2 separate regions of the Homo sapiens genome follow, and region 1 is linked to region 2. Evidence: fine-mapped expression QTL. A gene starts in region 2. The other region holds a variant in brackets. All regions are shown on one strand. Distances are between the middles of the regions. Region 1 has its middle 23 kb from the start of F2R. Region 2 holds the start of F2R (coagulation factor II thrombin receptor).

Evidence for each region.
Region 1: its variant is fine-mapped to the expression of F2R in whole blood (TOPMed, PIP above 0.99).

The regions. Positions count from the first base shown.
Region 1 is chr5:76,736,291-76,741,666 of GRCh38, reverse strand. No RefSeq gene overlaps it. Among named protein-coding and RNA genes, the nearest start is that of F2R, 23 kb to the right of the region's middle. RefSeq lists enhancers at 35-114, 2,248-2,317, 2,418-2,747. The variant G/T (reference allele first, on the strand shown) is at 2,860.
Region 2 is chr5:76,713,972-76,719,347 of GRCh38, reverse strand. It overlaps F2R (coagulation factor II thrombin receptor), which reads right to left and starts at 3,222. Exons shown (of 2, transcript NM_001992.5): 1 at 2,953-3,222. The coding sequence starts at 3,040. RefSeq lists enhancers at 372-872, 873-1,373 and a silencer at 3,167-3,416.

The DNA.
Region 1 (5,376 bases), 22 kb before region 2:
CAATGTTTAGTTTCACTTATAAGTGAGAACATGTGGTATTTGGTTTTCTGTTTCTGCATTAGTTGGCTTAGGATAATGGCCTCCAGCTCTATCCATGTTGCTGCAAAGAACGTGATCTTGTTCTTTTTTACGGCTGCATCGTATTCCATGGGGTATATGTACCACATTTTCTTTATCCAGTCTATCATTGGTGGGCATTTAGGTTGATTCCATAGCTTTGCTATTGTGAATAGTGCTGCAGTGAACACCTGTGCGCAGATGTCTTTATGGTAGAATGATTTCTATTCCTTTGGGTATATACCCAATAATGGGACTGCTGGGTTGAATGATAATTCTGTTTTAAATTATTTGAGAAATCACCACACTGCTTTCCACAATGGCTGAACTAATACTTTACATTCCCACCAGCAGTATATAAGCTAAGAAGCACTTTTCAAAAACAGTGGTATTGTTGATCTAAAAGGAAGAAGCTGAGTCAAAATTAATATAAGTAGAGAGTTTATTTGGGCCAAGCTTGAGGACTGCAACCCAGTGTATATTGAAGTGTATATTCAAGTTGTCCTGAATATACAATCTGATTAGCAGCAGTTGCATGTGAATGTTTATAAAGGAAAAGAGGCAGTTCCTAAGTTGTTTATCAAAATTTACATTAAAATAACATAAGCTGTTGATTGGATACACATTGTTCTTTGTATCACAGATTCCAGGAACATGAAGATAACAGGGAATGTAGCTAGTCAGGAACAAAATGCCTTTTTTTTTTTTGAGATGGAGTCTCTCTCCGTTGCCCAGGCTGGAGTGGCGCCATCTTGACTCACTGCAACCTCTACCTTCTGGCCTCCTGGGTTCAAACAATTCTCCTGCCTCAGCCCCCCGAGTAGCTGGGATTTCATGAGCATGCTGCCATGCCTGGCTAATTTTTGTATTTTTAGGAGTGTAGGGGTTCCACCATGTTGACCAGTCTGGTCTCAAACTCCTGACCTCAAGGGATCCTCTCGCCTCGGCCTCCCAAAGTGTTGGGATGACAGGCATGAGCTACCACACCACCAGGAACAAAATGACTTTAAATAATTGCCCACAGGCATGGGGGGTGGTGGGTAGGGGGAGGGTATGTGCCGGGGGTGTGACTGAAGTCCTCTACTCCCGTCTCTCTGGGCCTAATAAATTTTGCACACCTCACATAGCTCAGACTGCTGAGGGATTTTTCTTTTCTTAGTATCAACCCTGGTTTACACATCAGAATCTTCTGAGGAGCTTGAAAACAATATCAATGTCCAGGCCTCGCCCCCAGAGATTGGCACTGGAATTGTTTAGAAGCTCTCCAGTGATTCTATGCGCAACCAGAGTTGAGAACTGATTTAGTTTCTTTTCTTTTCTTTCTTTCTTTTCTTTTTTTTTTTTTTTTGAGACAGAGTCTCGTTCTGTTGCCCAGGCTGGAGTGCAGTGGTGCCATCTCGGCTCAGTGCAGCGTCTGCCTCCCGGGTTCCAGCAATTCTCCTGCCTCAGCCACCCGGGTAGCTGGATTACAGGCACGTGCCACCATGTCTGACTAATTTTTGTATTTTTAGTAGAGACAGGGTTTCACCATGTTGGCCAGCCTGGTCTCGAACTGCTGACCTCAGGTGATCCGCCCGCCTTGGCTTCCCAAAAAGCTAGGATTACAGGCATGAGCCACCAGGCCTGGCCAACTGATTTAGTTTCTAAAACTTGTTACAAGGCAGAGCTGATAAAATTCTAAATCTGAGGTCTTCAAATTTTGTGCTTCCTAACTAAACATTAAGTATTAGGATTAAATCCCAAAGCCAGTTAGCTTCTGGAGGATGGGAATATATTATTTGTCTTGTTTTTTTTAAAATATGTGTCAGCTAGTTTCAAGAGCAACTAGATATCCCAGGATAGGAAACAAAACAACAAAAATAGATATCAAATGATTATGGTTTTGCTCACGAATGCATCTCAGTATTGGACAGCCCACCCTTCGTGGTGTTTTCACTTCCTTGGATGGGTCGCATAGCAGCACACCAAAATGACCTGCAGATGTAGTCATTAAGATAGGCAAAACAGCCAGACTGGCCCTGCCACCATGCAGGCTACTATAGATGCAGCTTTCTTTTCTTTTTTTTTTTTTTGAGATGGAGTTTCGCTCTTGTCATCCAGGCTGGATGGCACAATCTCGGCTCACTGCAACCTCTGCCTCCTGGGTTCAAGCAATTCTCCTGCCTCAGCCTCCTGAGTAGCTGGGATTACAGGTGTGTGCCACCACATCTGGCTAATTTTTGTATTTTTAGTAGAGACAGGGTTTCACATGTTGGCCAGGCTGGTCTCAAACTCCCGACCTCAGGTGATCCACCCGCCTCGGCCTCACTAAAGTGCTGGGATTACAGCGGTGAGCCACCGTGCCCTGGCCAGATGCAGCTTTCAAAGCTCATCTCCTTACTGCTTATGAGTCATTTCCTGAAGTGATAAACACACAGCCTGCTGGGTTGAAACTGTACATGCTGTGTTATCTGAATTCTGAGATGCTACTGAATTTGACCTCTGGTTTTCCGTGTGTTTCCATAAGACTAGCATGCAATCAACAGTCCCCATGACAACAAACTTGGCGCTTGAGTTTCACTTTACAGGAATGCCACCATGGGTAGAATCTGCTGCTGTTCTGAATTGTCTCTTGGTCTTCTGGTCTGAAACTTTGCTCAGCAAGCACCTCTCTCTTTCCTTTACACAGCAGGTGGCTGAAAATCAGACCTCACACAGAGCTTCCTGTTCTGTGGACCACACCATACCTGATGACGTGAATCAGTATCTTTTCTTTTCTTTTTGTGACAGGGTCTCACTCTGTCACCCAGGCTGAAGTGTAGT[G/T]GCACCATCTTGGCTCATTGCAACCTCCGCCTCCCAGGCTCAAGCCATCCTCCCACCTTAGCCTCCCAAGTAGCTGGAACTACAGGCATGAGCCATCACGCTCGGCTAATTTTTGTATTTTTCGTAGAGACGGGGTTTTGCCATTTTGCCTAGGCTGGTCTCGAACTCCTGGGCTCAAACCATTCATCCGCCTTAGCCTTCCAAAGTGCTGGGATAATAGGCGTGAGCCACTGAGCCTGGATGTTGAATCAGTTTCTTGCTCCAAGACTTGGAACCCCTCAGCTCTGAAACAGCCAGAAACCCAGAGTGGTGCCTGCAGCTCTAAGCCAACTCTTTACCCCTGTTTGCTTTTATGCTTTTATAATAATTACCAGTTTATCTGTTTTCTTCAAGTCAATAAAGTTGGGACATCTTGGATAAGGGCAGTGGTTTTCAAACTTCTTTTGCTCAGAACACCTTAATACACTTAAAATTATTGAGGACCAGCAAAGAGCCTTTGTTTATGTGGGTTGCATCCATTGGTGTGCTGGAGTCAACTTGTACCTGCTCACAAGAATTCAATATTCAGGAAATTTGTCAAGCCAACTGTTAAACAGTTGGGAGCTTGAAACTGGAAAAGAAGGGAGTATTCACACCATCAAAATTGGCAAATGCTAGTTTGCCAGATCAGGCTTTTTTTCTTTTTGTGGAGATCCTGCTTAGCAGCACATCACTGACTTTTTTTCTTTTTCATTTTTTGAGACAGCCTTGCTCTGCTCTGTCGTCCAGGCTGGAGTGCAGTGATGCCATCTTGACTCACTGTAACCCTCGCCTCCCAGGCTCAAGTGATTCTCGTGCCTCAGCCTCCCAAGTAGCTGGGATTACAGATGTGCACCACCACACCCAGCTAAGTTTTTTATTTTTAGTAGAGATGGGGTTTACCTATGTTGCCCAGGCTGGTCTCGAACTCCTGGCCTCGTGATCCGCCTGGCTTGGCCTCCCAAAGTGTTGGTATTACAGGTGTGAGCTACTGCACCCTGCTGCCAATGATTTTATCTACTGATATTTTCCATATTAGACATTAAAATGGAGAACTTTTGAAAATATCTATTTCAGCTAAAAATGACAATAAGCCCATTACATGTTAAAATAAATACTATATTTTTCAAAATTTTTTCCCAAAACAATAATTTAAGGAGGAGAGTTGCATTGTTTTACATTTTTGCAATCTCTTTAATGACTGGTGTAATAGGAGACAGTCAGATTTTCGTCTCTGCTTCTGCATTCAATCTGTTGCACTTTCACATGTTGTGTAGCTTCTGGAAAACTCATCTGTCCACTTATGAGAGAAACAGACCAAAAAAGGCAAATAATATCTTGGTATTTGAAGAGAGTTTGACCTTGCAGATCTCCTGAGAGTCTCAGGAACTCTGAGAATAATTGCATTAGAGAATTTCTCCTCTCTTCTCACATTGCAGCTCACTTAACCACACCTCCTTCACAAAACACAATTAGGTTTATCCTGTGGTCAATTACTCTTCACACACATTTGGTCTAGTAGTTTCAAAAGGCATAGCCACATAACAGGCTAATTATGCCAGGAAATTACCATTGGTGAACTGTTTTTCCCCTTAATTTTCACGACAGCACCTGGCTGAAGATAAGCTGCTAATGGATGGTCCAGGCCCCAGAAACTTAAATAGCTTGGTCATCAATGCTGCTTAACCTTTTCCACTTGCTTCTGTAGCTCAACTTCCTCAAAGACATGCCAACGGCAAACAGTTTTTAAAATTTCTTAAATTCAGAAGTATAACCTAAAATTTTCCAAGTGTATATTCAATAGCCAAGCATTCCATTTCCTTAAAAATGCTATTTTTAGCTTGGTGGAAAAAACATTTTTTTTTTTTGGATACATGGTCTCACTCTGTTGCCCAGGCTGGACTGCAGTGGTGCAATCATGGCTCGCTGCAGCCTCAACCTCTTGGGCTCAGACGATCCTCCCACCTCAGCCTCCTGAGTAGCTGGGACCACAGGCATGCCATCGTGCCAGGTTAATTATTTATTTATTTTTTAATTGAGATGGCGTCTCACTATGTTGCTCAGGCTGGTCTCAACCTCCTGGTCTGAAATGATCCTCTGGCCTCAGTCTCCCAAAGTGTTGGCATTATAGGCGTGAGCCACCATGCCTGGACAAAAAAAATTTTTGTGTTAGCAAAATTTAAGGTTTTTTGAACTCAATCTATTCCTTGAAACACACGTGAAAAGTCCAGGCCTTAGAAACTTAAAAAGCTTGTGTGTTAACTTATAAAAATTCTGTATGTTAACAAAATCCTTGTTTAGTTGAAATAATTTTTTCATTGACTATGACTCTAGAAATAATTTATCAAAAATTTTTTTATTTTCAACCTTGAGAAGTACTAGTCATTTTGCTTTAAATTTCCCCTCCTCCCTTCTGCCTGAGGGAGTGCTAGACAGCAAAGGACTGTCATTCAGCCAGAGAAGACAGCACAGCCATTTTACGGATTTCCTTTCTGCTCT
Region 2 (5,376 bases):
AAAGTGCTGGGATTACAGGCATGAGCCACCGCACCCAGTCCCAATTCCACCTCTTTCTCAACTTGTGACTTAACCATTCTGGGTCTCTGTTTTATAACCAGTAAAATGAGGATGACATCTACTCAAAGGGCTGTTGTGAGAAATAAATAAGATAGTATTGTAACGTCCCTAAGAAGGATGTCAGCTGTAGTCAGTACTCCACAGAGGGTAGCTGTTTTTAATTAAACATGAACGTGGCGGGTATGGGATATGGGGAGGGCATTCTGGCCAGAGGGAGTGGCATGCGGACAGAAGCCAGAGAAAGCATAGCTCCTTGAAGGGAGGATCTAGAGGATGGGGCTGGGTGAACTGGAGGGTGAGTAATAGGAGATGGCTGGAGAGGGGCTGGGGACCCTCCTGCAAGGGGAGGAGCACTTCATTCCATGCCAGAGAATTGGGCTTGACTCTGTGAGTAGGAGGGTAGCAAGTGGAATTGCCCACCAAGTTCTCTCTGTCATAGTCACCACCAGCTATTCTTGAACACTTTAACCCTCTAGAGCCCCATAAAATTTATAAACATCACCTTTTACTCTTGGATGTTGGCCCTTTTAATGATCACATATCATCTCACTTAAATTGTCTAGACGAATGTAAACTGGTTGATGAATTTACACATTTCTCAACAACTATCTGCTGAGTGAACATTTGTTTTAGTCACCATGGGGATAAATAAAACTTTATAATCTTAGTTGGGAGAATGAGACACACACACAAAGTGACAAGGCAGGAAATGCCAAAATGAGTGGGAACAAAAAGTCGGGAAGTGCTGGAGGAAGGCTCAGCTTGGTGGTCAGGGCCAGCCCTGGGAGGGCTTCACCGCCCCTCTTGGCACACAGAGCTGGTAATCCTGGACAATAAACTCTATCACAGCGGTGGCGGTTCAAGGATGGGAGGCACTGTTGGATGCCTCAGAGTCCCAGCACCACTACCTTATGACAGACAATGCTTAGAATTGTCAATGCATGGTGGTAATAGAAAGTAAACCTATCTTGGGTTGATTTTATTAGTGATTTTAAATTTTCTAAAGACAAAGCCCCACTTATTCCTAATTGCTTGCACCCAGGGTGGGTGGACTGCCCCTTCCCTGCCCCACCCGCCACCACTTGCTTAGCCGCTGTCTCTGGGTCTTAGTTGCAGAATCAGCAAAAGGGGATAAATACCCACCTTAACAAGGTGTTTTGACAAGGTGAAATGAGACAATCCAAGTGAAAATTCCTTCTGGCCCAGGGCTTGACATGGAATATGGCACTTAGCAAGCGCTCCTTTTCCTCTATCATACTCCTTTCTTCTTTCCCTCCCAAAGTGGTTCCAGAATCCAGTGTTGATAAACTAGCCAAGTTCATCCACCTGCCTTTCTGTCTACACCAGCACTGTCCATATTAACATGCACCACTCCTGCCATGAGGATGTAAGAAGCTTGGCAGAAACCAGTACGCTTTGACTTCACTCCCTAATGAGGCTACACACCTTGCTGGGAGGCCACTGTGAGAAAGGGTGCAGCATTTCTATAAGCTCTGTTCTCCACCCCATGATCCAAATCTCAAACAAAACACTGGATTCTCAAGAGCGTGTCCTCAAACTACATTGTGCAAATTACATAATGGTATGTGAAATCATATCTCATCGCAAACAATTTTTCAGGAGTTCTCGGTGTTCTCTCAAACACTTTCGGCAACAATGCTCACTTATCTGCAGGCAGGCTAGTTACTGCTAAACACTGGGCCCCAGTCTGGAGCTCTTAGTTTTCCCAAAAGCATCTCAAAACTCACCCTGAACAAAGACAGAGAGGCGAGAACATGCTATGTCTTTGTCACCTCTTAATCTTGATGTGTCTACACTTTTTTTTGAGTGTGGGAGCAATATAGAGTGCACATTCTTTTAGCGATAACAAGAAAACCCGCTAGAACTTCTTTCAGCGTAAAAAAAATGGCTCAAAGCTTATAAAATACTATTGTTATTAGGAAATTCAAAAACACTTTTCTCACTTTCTAATTAGCGCCTTTACAGGCTAAAAACAACTCATCTGTGCTGCTCTTGGGGAAAGGGATACAGAAAATATTTGACCAAATAAATTAATCAAATTTATTTATTTGGTCAAGTGGCCAGATACTTAAAAATAGACTACTAGTGGGGAAAATATTCTAGGGGAGCAACCTTCTTGCAGTGGATCAGAAATCTCGTTAAGAAATACTGGGATCCCACAGTGTTCGAGGGAGCCCGGTCCTGGGGAGGGATCTCTCTCTTCAACTCACTTAGAAGGAATGGGTTCTAGGTAACAACAAAATCCTCTCCATGTCCCCTCCCCCGCCACCACGCGGAGCCTCTGCTATTGTCACCATATATCTCGCACCCTGCGCACCTCCTGGACACAAGGCCGGGCCGGGGGCTGCTGGTACTGATTCTCTGCTAAACATGCCAAGGGACTGCCTGGGCTTTTCTCTACATCACTTTTCTCGCCTGTAAAATGTGCAAGAAAAAAACTTCCAACAAAGCAAAACTTCAGCGGCAGCGGTTCGCCACTTTATATTTTAAAGATCGAAACGTTTATTGGTGGAGCAACGTGAGAGCTTTTCTTTTTGGGGGTGGTCCTGGGAGAAACACAATGACAAGTGCAACGCAGGACTGCAGGCTCCCCCAGGGGGCTTCCGCTCCATCCTCCTCCATATCCAACACCCCGTGGCAGGCGGGCTGCACCCTCCAAGATCGAGTCCAAAGGGGCATCGGCTGGGCCCGCGAAGGGGGTGGCACGCCCCACCTAAACGTGACTGGAAAAAACTCCAGATCTCAGCCCAAATGCCAGTTTGGCTTTCGGAGGAAACTGAGGCAGGGGTGAGGAGAAGGCGCAACAGTGACCCCCGCAGTCTCCCCTCGGCGTCCCTCCGCCCGCGCACCCCATTCCCGTGCATCTCTCACCTGGCCTGCGGGCCCGGGTGCGGGCAGACAACAGCGGGCCGCACAGACTGAAGCAGGCGGCCACCAGCAGCAGCCGCCGCGGCCCCATTGTCCCGGGCTCTGCGCGGCGCTGCTCCGGGAGGCTGCCCCGCCTCGGGCTGCTCCGCTTCACCCTCTCTCCTGACTTCTGCGGGTCGGGGAGCCGGTCTTCGCGGCAGGCAGAGCGCAGGGTGCCCACGGGTAAGATCAGGGTCCAAGCGACCCTCGGCGAGCGCTGTGTCTGGGGCGGTTAGCGGGGCGGGGCGGGACTGGGGCGCGCGGTCGCGCGGGCGCGAGCGAGGAAGGGCGCCCTCCGGCGTGCAGTGAGAGTCTCTGCGCTGGAGCCGCTCGGCGCCCCCTCCCCGCGGTCCCTCAGCCGCCGCTCGCAAGCCCCTCTGGCTCTGTGCGCCCCGCCCCGCCCCGCCCTGCCCTACTGGGGGGCCCTGGCCGCCGGCCACTGCCGGGCCTAGAAGTCCAAATGAGAAGTTTTTTCCTCTGGGCACCGTTGATTCGCGAAGCTGTCAGTGACTCACACTGGCGGGGTCCTTGGAATGGGGCCGCACGGCTCGCAGGCTGCTTCCCGCGGCCGTCTCGACCCTCCTGGGATGTGGAGACGTCGACAGTGGACGCCCCGGCCAGGATGCGTCCACGCCCTGCAGCCCCGCAGCCCTGGCGTGGCCTCCCGTCCTCCCTCCCTCCGTGTGGGACACCGGCAAAGTTCAGTTTTCGCTAAAAGTCTAAAAGGGACTTCTGCTTTTGTAACGTGGGGATCACGGATTTAAAAGTTTATGATGTAGTGACAGGGTTGCCCCTAAATGAGAAAGGGCCCTTGAGTCTGGACAGAATTCTTGAACTTTTATACGTCTCTCTTTATTTCGCGAAGTTAGGCGTTTCATACGCCGGGCACTCGTTTCCCCCACACGCAGACTGCGAGTGGAATAGGAAGAGCGGCTTCTCCCGCTTCCCCCCCGCGCGGCCTCGCGGAGCTCTTCCCTTTCCCGCGCCGCCCGCCGGGGTCACCTGCGCATCTGGGAGGAGGGCGCGCGTCTGCCGGTGAGGCCGGCGTTCTAGGGCCGCGGGCGCCCAGGAGAGAAATGGCCTGGTAACTTTCCAAGTGTCCTTCACACGTTCTTGAACGATATTACAGTTTGTTTTGTTTTTGAGGCAGGGTCTTGCCCTGTCGCCCAGGCTGGAGTGCAGTGGCGCCAACACGGCTCACTGCAGCCTCGATCTCCCTGGCTCAGGCCACCCTTTCGCCCCAGCCTCCGGATTACCTGGGACCACAGAAAGGCGCGCGCCACCATGTCCGGCTAATTTCACTGCTGGCCTCAAGCGATCCTCCTGCCTCAGCCTCCTAAAGTGCGGGGATTACAGGCGTGAATCACCGCGCCAGGCCTGATATTAAAGGAGTTTGGCTAAATTCAAGGCACAGGGCGGGGACACTCGCTTGGCAGTCTGCTAAGGGCCCCCAGGGGCGTCGCGGCTGGGGGTGGGCAGGAGGAGCCTGCAGCTTAAGTTGCTTTGCCACTGGCTCTGGTGCGTGCGCCTTTCAGACTCCAACAGGAAATGGGTCCCCAAATAGCTGTTTCTAGGAAAGCTCAGCCGCAGCCCCTTCTCCTCTTAACCCAGCGCACTGATGTGCGGGCATATTCGGAGTTCTGTGGTTGATAAGCTGCAGCTGAGAGCCGGTGGTCAGTTTTCTAAGCCTTTTTTAAAAGTGAATTTCGCACGAAGAGTATCATTCCCCCACTAGAGCCCGGACACTTACATCCGTGGAGAAAGTACGATCAGAGGCGATTTCGTTCTTCCCTGTATTCTCCCATCATCCTCAAAGGACAGTACCTTGTTGTACACAGAAGTTGATCACTAAATTGCGGAAGTACCCAGTTAAATAAAGCTTTTTAAAATCTATCCCCGTTCAGTTATCCTCTGGAAACATACCCAAGAGTAAATGTGAACAGTTAAAATTACATAGTTCTTCATTCACTATTAAACTATTTTTCATTATTCCTAAGACGTCATTGATTTTACAATTTATCATTTTAACCCATTACCACAAGCCAGAAAAAAATGTGACATACCAATGATTGTAAGAAACACTCCAATTTCAGGGTTATGAAGAAAAGGCATTTTAGAATCAATGAAACACAGTGGAAAATATAAACACATATGACAAAATTTCTGATAGTTGAAGGATATGAAATGAAAAATAAATTACCTTCTGCCTCCCCTCCCCTAGTTGCCATCTGACCACTAAGTTTCCCCTCCTTCCTTCCTTCCTTCCTTCCTTCCTTCCTTCCTTCCTTCCTCCCTCCCTCTCTTCCTTCCTTCCTTCCTCTCTTCCTTCCTTCCTCTCTCTCTCTCTCTGTCTTTCTTATTTTCTTTCTTTCTTTTTTTTCCTGAGGC